3 linked regions of the Homo sapiens genome follow. The gene in region 2 interacts genetically with the main gene of each other region. Each region holds a gene or a part of one and is shown on either strand. Other genes may lie near its edges.

Evidence for each region.
Region 1: changes in BFAR (region 2) and ACACA together harm fitness less than expected from each alone (positive genetic interaction), as found in Homo sapiens cells (one large-scale study listed by BioGRID).
Region 3: changes in BFAR (region 2) and NF1 together harm fitness more than expected from each alone (negative genetic interaction), as found in Homo sapiens cells (one large-scale study listed by BioGRID).

Annotation. Positions count from the first base shown.
Region 1 is NC_000017.11:37,396,807-37,400,461, reverse strand, and holds part of ACACA (acetyl-CoA carboxylase 1), read left to right. Parts: intron 1-3,655. UniProt on the Homo sapiens protein: Cytosolic enzyme that catalyzes the carboxylation of acetyl-CoA to malonyl-CoA, the first and rate-limiting step of de novo fatty acid biosynthesis.
Region 2 is NC_000016.10:14,646,334-14,649,988, reverse strand, and holds part of BFAR (bifunctional apoptosis regulator), read right to left. Parts: intron 1,602-3,655; coding exon 1,397-1,601; intron 186-1,396; coding exon 16-185; intron 1-15. UniProt on the Homo sapiens protein: Membrane-bound E3 ubiquitin ligase that plays a role in several processes including apoptosis regulation or reticulum endoplasmic stress. Has anti-apoptotic activity, both for apoptosis triggered via death-receptors and via mitochondrial factors.
Region 3 is NC_000017.11:31,374,477-31,378,131, reverse strand, and holds the end of NF1 (neurofibromin), read right to left. Parts: 3' UTR 457-3,655; downstream 1-456. UniProt on the Homo sapiens protein: Stimulates the GTPase activity of Ras. NF1 shows greater affinity for Ras GAP, but lower specific activity. May be a regulator of Ras activity.

The sequences.
Region 1 (3,655 bases), on a different chromosome or scaffold from region 2:
TATTATACTATATGGTGACTATAGTTAAAAATATATACTTGAGGCCAGGCACTGTGGCTCACACCTGTAATCCCAGCACTTTGGGAGGCTGAGGCAGGTGGGTCATCTGAGGTCAGGGGTTTGAGACCAGCCTGGCCCACATGGTGAAACCCCATCTCTACTAAAAATACAAAAATTAGCCAGGCGTGGTGGTGCATGCCTGTAATCCCAACTACTCAGGAGGCTGAGGCATGAGAATCACTTGAACCCGGGAGGCAGAGGTTGCAGTGAGCCAAGATTGCATCACTGCACTCCAGCCTGGGCAACAGAGCAAGACCCTGTCTCAAAAACAAAAACAAACAAACAAACAAAAATATATATATGCTTGAAAATTGCTAAGAGAGTAGATTTTAGTTGTTCTTACCACACAAAAAAATAAGTATTTGCGGTAATGGGTATATATTTGAGGTAATGGATTTGTTAATTAGCTTGATTTAGCCATTCCACAATGAGTACATCTATCAACACATGTTGTACATCATGAATATACACAATTTTTATTTGCCAAAAAATGTTTAAATATGCCATAAGTAAATTAAATAAAATAAATTTCTTAGAACATTATTTATAAAAATAAAGCAAAAAACCAGATCTGTCCAAATATAACTAATAAACTGACTCTCATTATTTAACACTCAAGAGTTGGCTGGCATCAGGATTTTCATAATACCATGGCCATTAAACAGTTTTCGTGAATCCAGGCCTTCGTTACCCATCTCTTCTGCTTCTTCCTCACCTTACTGACTTCTTTCTCATGTACACAGAGTGCGGAATATCTGTCTCATGAGTCACCAGCCTTTGGGCAGAACCCAAAAAATTAGGTGAACTAGAAATATATTGTTGCTAAGTGGCTCGGTTTATCAGACAATTCTAAAATGCCTACTAGGCTGCCTAGCTGCATACTTTTCTGCCTAATGTACAGGACCTCCATCTTGTGACTGTCAAAACAGGCTCCTAAATTATTTTGCATCATTTGGTGACAGGCAGTCTATACTCTTGTGCAACCAACAGGTGCCCAATAAATGCTTGGAATATGCAAGGAACTTGGCATTGTTTAATATAATTGAAAAAGCAAGCATGGACTTTGAAACTTTCCTGAATTTGAATTCTGTCTCCACTCCTTATCACCTTTAAGAATTTAGGGCCTGGTGCGGTGGCTCATGCCTATAATCCCAGCACTTTGGGAGGCTGAGGCGGGTGGATCACTTGAGATCAGGAGTTCGAGACCAGCCTAGCCAACATGGTGAAACCCCATCTCTACTAAAAATATAAAAAATTAGCCGGGCATGGTGGTGCATGCTTATAATCCCAACTACTTGGGAGGCTGAGGCAGGAGAATCGCTTGAACCCAGGAGGCAGAGGTTGCCGTGAGCCGAGATCCCACCATTGCACTCCAGCCTGGGCAACAAGAGTGAAACTCCATCTAAAAAAAAAAAAGAATTTAGGGAAGTTATTATCTTCCTGCATCTCCTTTCTCCTCCTATGTAAAATGAAAATAATAATGTCTAATTCATAAGCGTTTCATAAGGATATGATGAAAGCCCGATGCAGTAGCTCACGCCTGTAATCCCAGCACTTTGAGAGGCTGATGTGGGTGGGTCACTTGAAGTCAGTAGTTCGAGACTAGCCTAGCCAACATGGTGAAACCCTGTCTCTACTAAAAATACAAAAACTAGCTGGGCATGGTGGCAGGCGCCTGTAATCCCAGCTACCCGGGAGGCTAAGGCAGGAGAATCGCTTGAACTCAGGAGACTGAGGTTGCGGTGAGCTGAGATCGTGTCACTGCACTCCAGCCTGGGCAACAGTGCCAGACTCTGTCTCAAAAAAAAAGCCCGGGCATGGTGGCTCACGCCTGTAATCCCATAATCCCAGCACTTTTGGAGGCCAAGGTGGGCGGATCACCTGAGGTCAGGAGTTCGAGACAGCCTGACCAATATGGAGAAACCACATCTCAACTAAAAATACAAAATTAGCAGGGCATGGTGGCGCATGTCTGTAATCCCAGCTACTCGGGAGGCTGAGGCAGGAGAATCACTTGAACCCAGGAGGCGGAGATTGCAGTGAGCTGAGATTGCACCGTTGCGTTCCAGCCTGGGCAACAAGAGCGAAACTTCGTCTCAAAAAAAAAAAAAAAAAAAAAAGTGATACCACAACAGCTAGAAGAGGAGGCCAAACTGTTTTTTTTTTTTTTTTGAGACAGAGTCTCGCTCTGTCACCCAGGCTGGAGTGCAGTGGTGCGATCTCGGCTCACTACAACCTCCGCCTACCTGGTTCAAGTGATTCTCCTGCCTCAGGCTCCTGAGTAGCTGGGAGTACAGGCGCGCGCCACCACGCCCAGCTAATTTTTTGTATTTTTAGTAAAGACGGGGTTTCACAGTGTTAGCCAGGATGGTCTCAATCTCTTGACCTTGTGATCCACCTGCCTCGGCCTCCCAAAGTGCTGGGATTACAGGAGTGAGTCACCGCGCCCAGCCCCCATTTTACATTTTTTTATTTGTGCCCACTGCCTTTTTTCAGAGGATGCAGTTAGCAATTTCAGCCACTGGATGGTGCAAATTCACAAGAGTCCAGTGAAAGTTCCTCAATTACGGTCCAAGGTGCACCTGTTGCTACACTGCACCAAGTGAAGGAGGGTGGGGTAAAGGAAAGACTTTTTGGATCTGAAATTTCAGTATAAACATGGATCGAAGTTCACTAGAAGTTCAGATTGAGGGAAATTTTTAGAATTTGATCACTGACAAATCAGGTCATTGAATAAGGAAAGACAAAAGAAAAGTGTTGTAATAATGAAGAGGAAGAGAAAAAGGAACAGATGATGAAATATGAGGGAAAATAAGTCTAAAGAGATGAATTCAAGTGTTAGCAACAATTATAGTATGACCCTTTACTGGTTTGCATCTCCCTGGTAACTGATAGCAACTTTGATATAAAAATAAAGCTTACTTCATTCTCTTCTAGAAAGTCAGCTATGCTACCCTTAGCTTATCCATTTGGTGGTGTGACATTATCAACAAATATTTTTAGTATCTGCTATGAACATGGTGCTTTGTTGATACAAAGTAATATAGAGATATACAAATTAACACAGATACTGGGCTTCAAGCAGAAGAACCAGTAAGTACATATAAGAAGATAAGTAATTGACTGGATTAAGAAAATGTGGCACATATACACTATGGAATACTATGCAGCCATAAGAAAGGATGAGTTCATGTCCTTTGTAGGGACATGGATGAAGCTGGAAACCATCATTCTGAGCAAATATCGCAAGGACAGAAAACCAAACATCGCATGTTCTCACTCATAGGTGGAAATTGAACAATGAGAACACTTGGACACAGGGCTGGGAACATCACACATCAGCGCCTGTCGTGGGGTGGGGGGATGGGGGAGGGATAGCATTAGGAGAAATACCTAATGTAAATGACGAGTTAATGGGTGCAGCAAACCAACATGGCACATGTATACATATGTAATAAACCTGGACATTGTGCACATGTACCCTAGAATTTAAAGTATAATACTACTACTACTATTACTAATAATAGGGAAGATAAGTAATTCAAGGCAACCTGAGGGCCATTGTGTCAACTCAGAAAATGGAATACTTTTTGAA
Region 2 (3,655 bases):
GACTTTGCTCCTCACCTTCCATTTACTCGTTCAGATAAAAACCTTTCCCTGTAAAGAGATGCCCAAGGGCCCAGCTGCTCCAGCCAGAGGACAACTTCTTCCGCCGTCCATTTGGCCACAGCCTTGTGGACCAGGAGGTCGTGTTCAGATTCCCTGCTGCTCCAGTGATAGACGAGCAGGACCACCTGGGGAAAAGTGACAGGGACTTTAAACCATGGAGAGGCAGAGATGCCAGTTTCTAAATATGCGGGTGGGAGGTGGGGAAAGGAAGAGGCTGAGCTCACAGGGAATGATGCGGAGCCCGTACACAGAAGCAGGGCAACAAAAGCAGGGCAACGCCACGGCCACAGAGAACTGGGGACCACAGCTCTCCTCGGGTGCCTCTCTCTGCTGATTGCGTGGCAGTGAGGGCACAGAGGCGAGAAAAGGACTTATCTCAGGCACCTGGGAGCAGGTGGTGCCTTGACTCCATCAACTTGCTCAACATAACTGACTTGTGCCTTTTCTACTGGAAAAACATTTAGATTTTTTATGCACAGAACTTTAAAAGAAAATAGTCTCCACATTGGAAGTTAGTAAACTGGTGGGTTCTTAAGACTGTATTACCAAGGAGGTCCAGGCGTGGTGGCTCACGCCTATAATCCCAGCACTTGAGGAGTCTGAGGCGGGTGGATCACTTGAGGTCAGGAGTTCCAGACCAGCCTGGCCAACATGGTGAAACCCCATCTCTACTAATCACACAAAAATTAGCCTCTTGTAGTGGCGCATGCCTGTAATCCCAGCTACTTGGGAAGCTGAGGCAGAAGAATCACTTGAACTCGGGAGGTGGAGGTGGCAGTGAGCCGAGATCATGCCACCGCACTCTAGCCTAGGCAACAGGGCAAGACTTCATCTCAAAAAAAAAAAAAAAAAAAAAAAGAGCAAGAGATGTAATCCACATAAAATTCACACATTTGAAGTGCACACAATCCACGGTTTTTAATGTGTTCACAAATATGTGTCATCATCACCACAGCTGGTTTTAGTTCATTTTCACCACCCTAAAAGAAAGTTTTTACCTAGATCGCACCACTGCACTCCAGCCTGGGCGACAGAGCAAGAGTCCGTCTCAAAAACAAAACAAAACAAAAAAAGATTGTATTACCAAGGCAGACATGGTCTTGAATTCCAGTTCTACCACCTTTCTCCATTTACTAGGTACTATGATCTGATCTACCTGAGTAAGCAACATTCCTGAGGAAATCATAGAACCCAGCAGATTTCAATGTACGTAGTAAATTACATGGAGTCACATCATCAATTATTTCAGTGATTTCAACAGAACTGACTTCAGTGGAAATCAGGGGTCGGGGGGTGAGGTGTGGGGGGGCACAGAGGAACACAGTGATCAACTTACTGCCACTCCAGTTAAAGCTGTGAGCACACCGGAAAAGAATCCCCCTCCCATCTGCTGATTCGCTCGGCCTGTGTTAGGAGCTAAAGGAATCTGATCATTCCCATATTTCTGAAAGGCTGCAAGACTTTGGACTATGTCATTATTCTGCTGAATGTCTTCAAATCTCAGTCTAATGGCATCAGGAAATAACTTTTCAATGGCATCCCTATGGAGAATAGAAAAAAAAAATTAAGACAGTTGTTTGACTAAATATCATGTTTAGAGGCCAAAAAAGCCCTGATAGTCAACATCTAATAATATATAGCTACCCTAGGAGAACTGACAAGAAATGTATTATAGTCCTGTGGGTAAAAGCAAAAAATCTGAAATAATCTATTAGGTTGTTTACCATTACTTTCTCCTTTTGTTTTTTTGAGACGGAGTCTTACTCTGTCGCCCAGGCTGGAGTGCAATGGCGTGATCTTGGCTCACCGGTGCACACCACCATACCCGGATAACTTTTTTTTTGTATTTTTAGTAGAGATAGGGTTTCACTATGTTGCCCAGGCTGGTATTGAACTCCTGAGCTCAGGCAATCTGCCCACCGGGGCCTCCCAAAGTGCTAAGATTAGAGGCATGAGCCACTGCACCCAGCCTACCATTACTTTCAATGGTAAAAACTGCAATTACTTGTGCACCAACCTGATGATATACATTTACTACTAGGTAAAAGGCTAAATGAAATATGGTATATTCATACAATGAAGTATCACAATTTTAAATGCATTTGCTGGATCACTAAATGTGTCAAGGTGGAGAAATTTAAGACGTACATAATTGATTTAAAATAGTAAACTGCAGAACCATGCAGAGAGCACATCAATGATGTGAGAAAATACTTGCATTTTCTATTGGCACTTGTTTTTTTTTTTTTTTGAGACAAGAGTCTTGCTCTGTCACCCAGGCTGGAGTGTAATGTCATGATCTCAGCTTACCGCAACCTCCGTGTCCTTCAAGTGATTCTCATGTCTCAGCCTCCTGAGTAGCTGGGATTATGGGCATGCGCCATTACACCAGGCTAATTTTTGTATTTTTGGTCATGTTGGCTAGGCTGGTCTTGAATTCCTGGCCTCATGAGATCCGCCTGCCTCGGTCCTCCCAAGGTACTGGGATTACAGGCATGAGCCACCGCACCCAGCCTGGCACATGTATGTTTAGAAGTATTTTTAAGCCGGGCGTGGTGGCTCACGCCTGTAATCCCAGCACTTTGGGAGGCCGAGGTGGGCAGATCACTTAAGGTCAGGAGTTCCAGACCAGCCTGGCCAACATGGTAAAACCCTGTTTCTACTAAAAATACAAAAATCAACCGGGTGTGGTGGTGGGCGCCTGTAATCCCAGCTACTTGGGAGGCTGAGGCAGGAGAATCGCTTGAACCTGGGAGGAGGAGGTTGCAGTGAGCTGAGATCGCACCATTGCACTCCAGCCTGGGCAACAGAGCGAGACTCTGTCTCAAAAAAGAGTATTTTGAAAAATCTGAGGCTGGGTGTAGTGGCTCACGCCTGTAATCTCAGCACTGTGGGATGCTGAGGCAGGAGGTTCACTTGAGCTCAGCAGTTGGAGACCAGCCTGGGCAACATAGTGAGACCTGATCGCTACTAAAAAGTTAAAAAAAAGTATTTAAAAAAATCTGAACAAAAGCACAACTAAGTCATAACTGAAATTATTCTAAGGAAAAAGGAAAGGATTCTAAGATGGGAAAATAAGGGGTCAAAAGGATCTTTAGTTTTATCAGTAATTTTCCAATATTTTAAAAAGAGGCTGGGCGCGGGGGCTCATGCCTGTAATCCCAGCACTTTGGGAGGCTGAGGCGGGCGGATCACCTGAGGTCGGGAGTATGAGACCAGCCTGACCAACATGGAGAAACTCTGTCTCTACGAAAAATACAAAATTAGCCAGGCATGGTGGCACATGCCTGTAATCCCAGCTACTTGGGAGGCTGAGGCAGGAGAATCACTTGAACCTGGGAGGCGGAGGTTGCAGTGAGCCGAGATTTTGCCAATGCACTCCAGCCCGGGCAACAAGGGTGAAGCTCCATCTTAAAAAAAAAAAATTTTAGCTGGGCATTTGGCCAGGCACAGTGGCTCACGCCTGTAATCCCAGCACTTTGGGAGGCCAAGACGGGCGGATCACTAAAGGTCAGGAGTTCGAGACCAGCCTGGCCAAAACTGTGAAACCCCGTCTCTACTGAAAATACAAACATTCACCAGGCACGGTGGCTCA
Region 3 (3,655 bases), on a different chromosome or scaffold from region 2:
TTTCTCCACTGATTGGGGGAGGCAACCCACATAATCAAGTAAGTAAAATAGTAACACGGGGCAGCTGAGCCAGGGGAGGTGGTTTACATTGTATACACGTGTAGTGTCACAGAAGATTCTATAGCGGGAAAGCTGAAAAGTTGGAGAGAACTGCCCTCTGACTGGTCAATCTTGGGATGCCCTGACATTTCTGACTGGCTTCATTTTAAGAGAAGCCAGCTTATCCCAGAGAACAGACTCACCTGAGTTTGGCAGGCCCTAAAAAAGCATTTCACAAAAATATTTCACTTTTAGTGTGGAGAAGTTCTGGAAATGGAAAGATCTTTCTCACGGGGAGTAGGAGAGCCAAAAACATCCTTAAGGAAAATGGCCTTAATGTTTCAAAAGATTGGGAGGACTCGGGGGGAAGAAAACAGAGCTCGATACATCTGAAGAAATTAAATAACTCCTCATATCTTAGAGCAGATTGAATTTACATTTTACTTAAAAAAAGGGGGGTGGGGGAAGTACATACACAAGGAGGAAAATGGGGTGAGGAACAATAAAGATCTGAAATGGATTTCTATGATTTTCCCCTACAATGATCGATTTTGTCTGTTGGGCAGTATTTTTCCTGCTGGCGTACAACTGTTTACAGTATTAACAAGGTTGTAGACAAAGGAACTGCCAAAGTTTAGGCCCGGATGGAAAGGACAGTAAGTTATCATATACAATTTAAGTTTACAATACACAGCATTTTCTTTAAATGATGTAACGCAGTCGCAAAAAGAAGTTAACAATACTAACACGAGAATAATCAAATTTTTGTTGTTATCCATGTGCAGCAACTAACTGCTTTACAAAAAAGCAAAATAATACAATATATCATCACATATATTTACAGTATAGTAAATATACTTTTTTTGTCAAATTTTACACAAACTATTTACAGGTGAATATACTGCATTAAAAAAAATTGTGTGGCTGACACTAAGAATGAATTTTTGCCTAAATCCATTGCATAACATTGAGTAAGACATGCCTCATTATGCCTGGGAGTCGGGGAAGGATGTAGAAACAAAAACAAAAAACAAAAAACCCAAACAAAACTGAAAACCCCTAAAACCTACAAACCTGGGAGGGTTGCTGGCTGGCACTCTGTCTCCCCAACTAGGACACAGGATAGAAGCTGACTGTTTAGGATGTGTCCTGGGCACCTGGCTCAGTCATGAACAGGTGTTGAGTGAATGGAAGACAGAGCTGTAGCCACTTTGCCCCAAATCTACTGAACTGCATCTCCATCTGGGCAACTAAGGGCATGCCCCTCGGATGGGAGTACTGGCATAACAGGTAGATTATCCAGGACAAAAACATGACTGAGTTCCTGGTTTCCTCTTTAACAAGTCAGGGGAAACATCTACAAACCGAAACGAATTACTTATAATATTTTTAACAGAACTTATGTCAATTACGCAGAAATGGGCAACTTGGTCTAAACTTCAGAATTTCTTTTATAGATTACAAGTATGAAGACTAAAAAAGTGTTGCATTTCTCAAGGGACACATAGTGGTGAGAGGTTTATCTCATGTACATTTTAGTTACTTGGAAAGCTAGATTTTCCTCAAAAGTCAGAAGTTCTTTAAACAAGGTAAATTTTAAACCTTAGTTAAGTTTTCAAACTCCTAGGATGTACTTACTAGTCAAAGGTATTTTTGCATTTCAAAGGCGGCTGAATTTTGATTTGTGCCAATGCTGATCATTTCAGGCGGTATGAAATACTACACCCTTGGTAAACCCGTTTATGGAAATATCAGTATTTTTAACAGTAAACCTCTGGAAGTTTCTTTATTTTGATGGGAAGAGCAAAATAGCATAACACCCACTATCATATGCACCAAACCAACAAACAAAAACAAGAAAAACATCGAACTAAAGTTATCAAAGGCTTACACTGCCTGCTATTCCAGGGCCTAGAAACTGTGAAACTTACCCCAGAAACACTGGGTTGTGGGAGAGCCAAGACCATGGTGGCAGCTTGGCATCCTTGGCACTGGGTTACTGATCTATTTCTAAACACAGTTCTAATTTCAGCTTTTTTATATAGTCATAGTTGCTCTGTCATTATAAACATTTTCTTCTAATGCAGCCTCTACAATAGTTTAAAAACAAAAGTTTAGTAAATTGCACCTGTCTTCAGTATTTCCAACAATTCTATGGTAAACTCATTAATAATACTAAGGTTTTCTTTCCTCTTATTTTGGCAAATAATTCTTACTTTTCCCAGGACTGTAAACAAATTTAAAAAATTAAATTCTTGTTATTTCTGAGTATCAAAACCAATTTTATTTACATTAACATATTACATTGTTACTGTGTGGATAAATGTGAAATATATTATTAAAATCAGAACACTTAAATGTACCATTATTTATTGAATTAGCTGTGGAATTTAATTTACTGAAATCCTCTAATGAAACAGCACTACAGGAAACTCCCCTCTCCCCTAGGTTTATTTTTTCCCCCCTCAAAGCCATTATATCTTAACATATAAAGGGAACCTGGGAGTAGAGGGATTAATATCTTTTTGTAATAAATATGGTTTAGTTCTAAATTGGAACATCCAGATACCAATATGCTCACTGAAGTCAAATTATTTTGTAAACTGCAGGTACCACAAAGAAATTGGATCTGCATTACTATGAAAATTCCAATGCCATGATAATCCATACCACCAGTATAGCAGCAATTCTAACAGCCCCCCTACTGTCATACTAATGCAGGCTGACCAGTCTTTTCACAGTGATTAAATGCAATTCTAGCATATATAACCTACATGTTTTCTTAAAGAGGTTTCTGATTTTTTTGGAGAGGAGGAGGAAGATTAAAAGACATTCAAAATACATCTTATCAAAGAAATTTATAATATACACCATACTCTATTCTTGGAAATTATTTAACAAAATAAAAATATCAGCTACCCTAAATGTCACGTACCATTCCATTTTGCTATGGAGCTAATGCAAACATCTATGAAAATTACCTTCTGGGAACAATTTTCAACACTTTGTTCACTGATTACCCTGCTCAGAATTAGTTAGGAAAGAAGAGGGGGAGGGGAAAAAATATATATATATATATAATTACTATACTTAGTATAGTTTTGGTTTACAAAAAACAAAACACAAAAAAACCACCTTTAGCAAAATTAAAAATTAAAAGATAATCAACTGGAGAAAAAAATAAACTAGTTTGGATGACTGAGTTTGGATAAGGACTTAGAAGCCATAGTTTTAATTCAGTAATGTTAAGATATATGTGGTCGCACTTATTTTCCTGTAATTATTGCTAATACTCAAGTGTTAGTATTTCTTAAGAATCCACTATAAAATATGAAATTTCCCTGCCCTCCCCCCCAAGTACCTTGTCTGTGGCTTTATGGTGTCAAGTCACTGAGGCTTGACCTCTATGGTTCTTTCAGTTTTGTACGGTTAAAAAAAAAGTCCACAGCTAAAAGATTAAACATACTGGGGTTATAATACTATTTCTCTCATAAACTTGTATCTTGAAAAATGTATAAATAGGACTAACACTTTACTCTGTAGGATGAAGAAGGGAAAACCACAGAAGGCAGAGCTCTGTGCAAATGGCTTTCATCACTGGCCAGTAGTAGCAGTA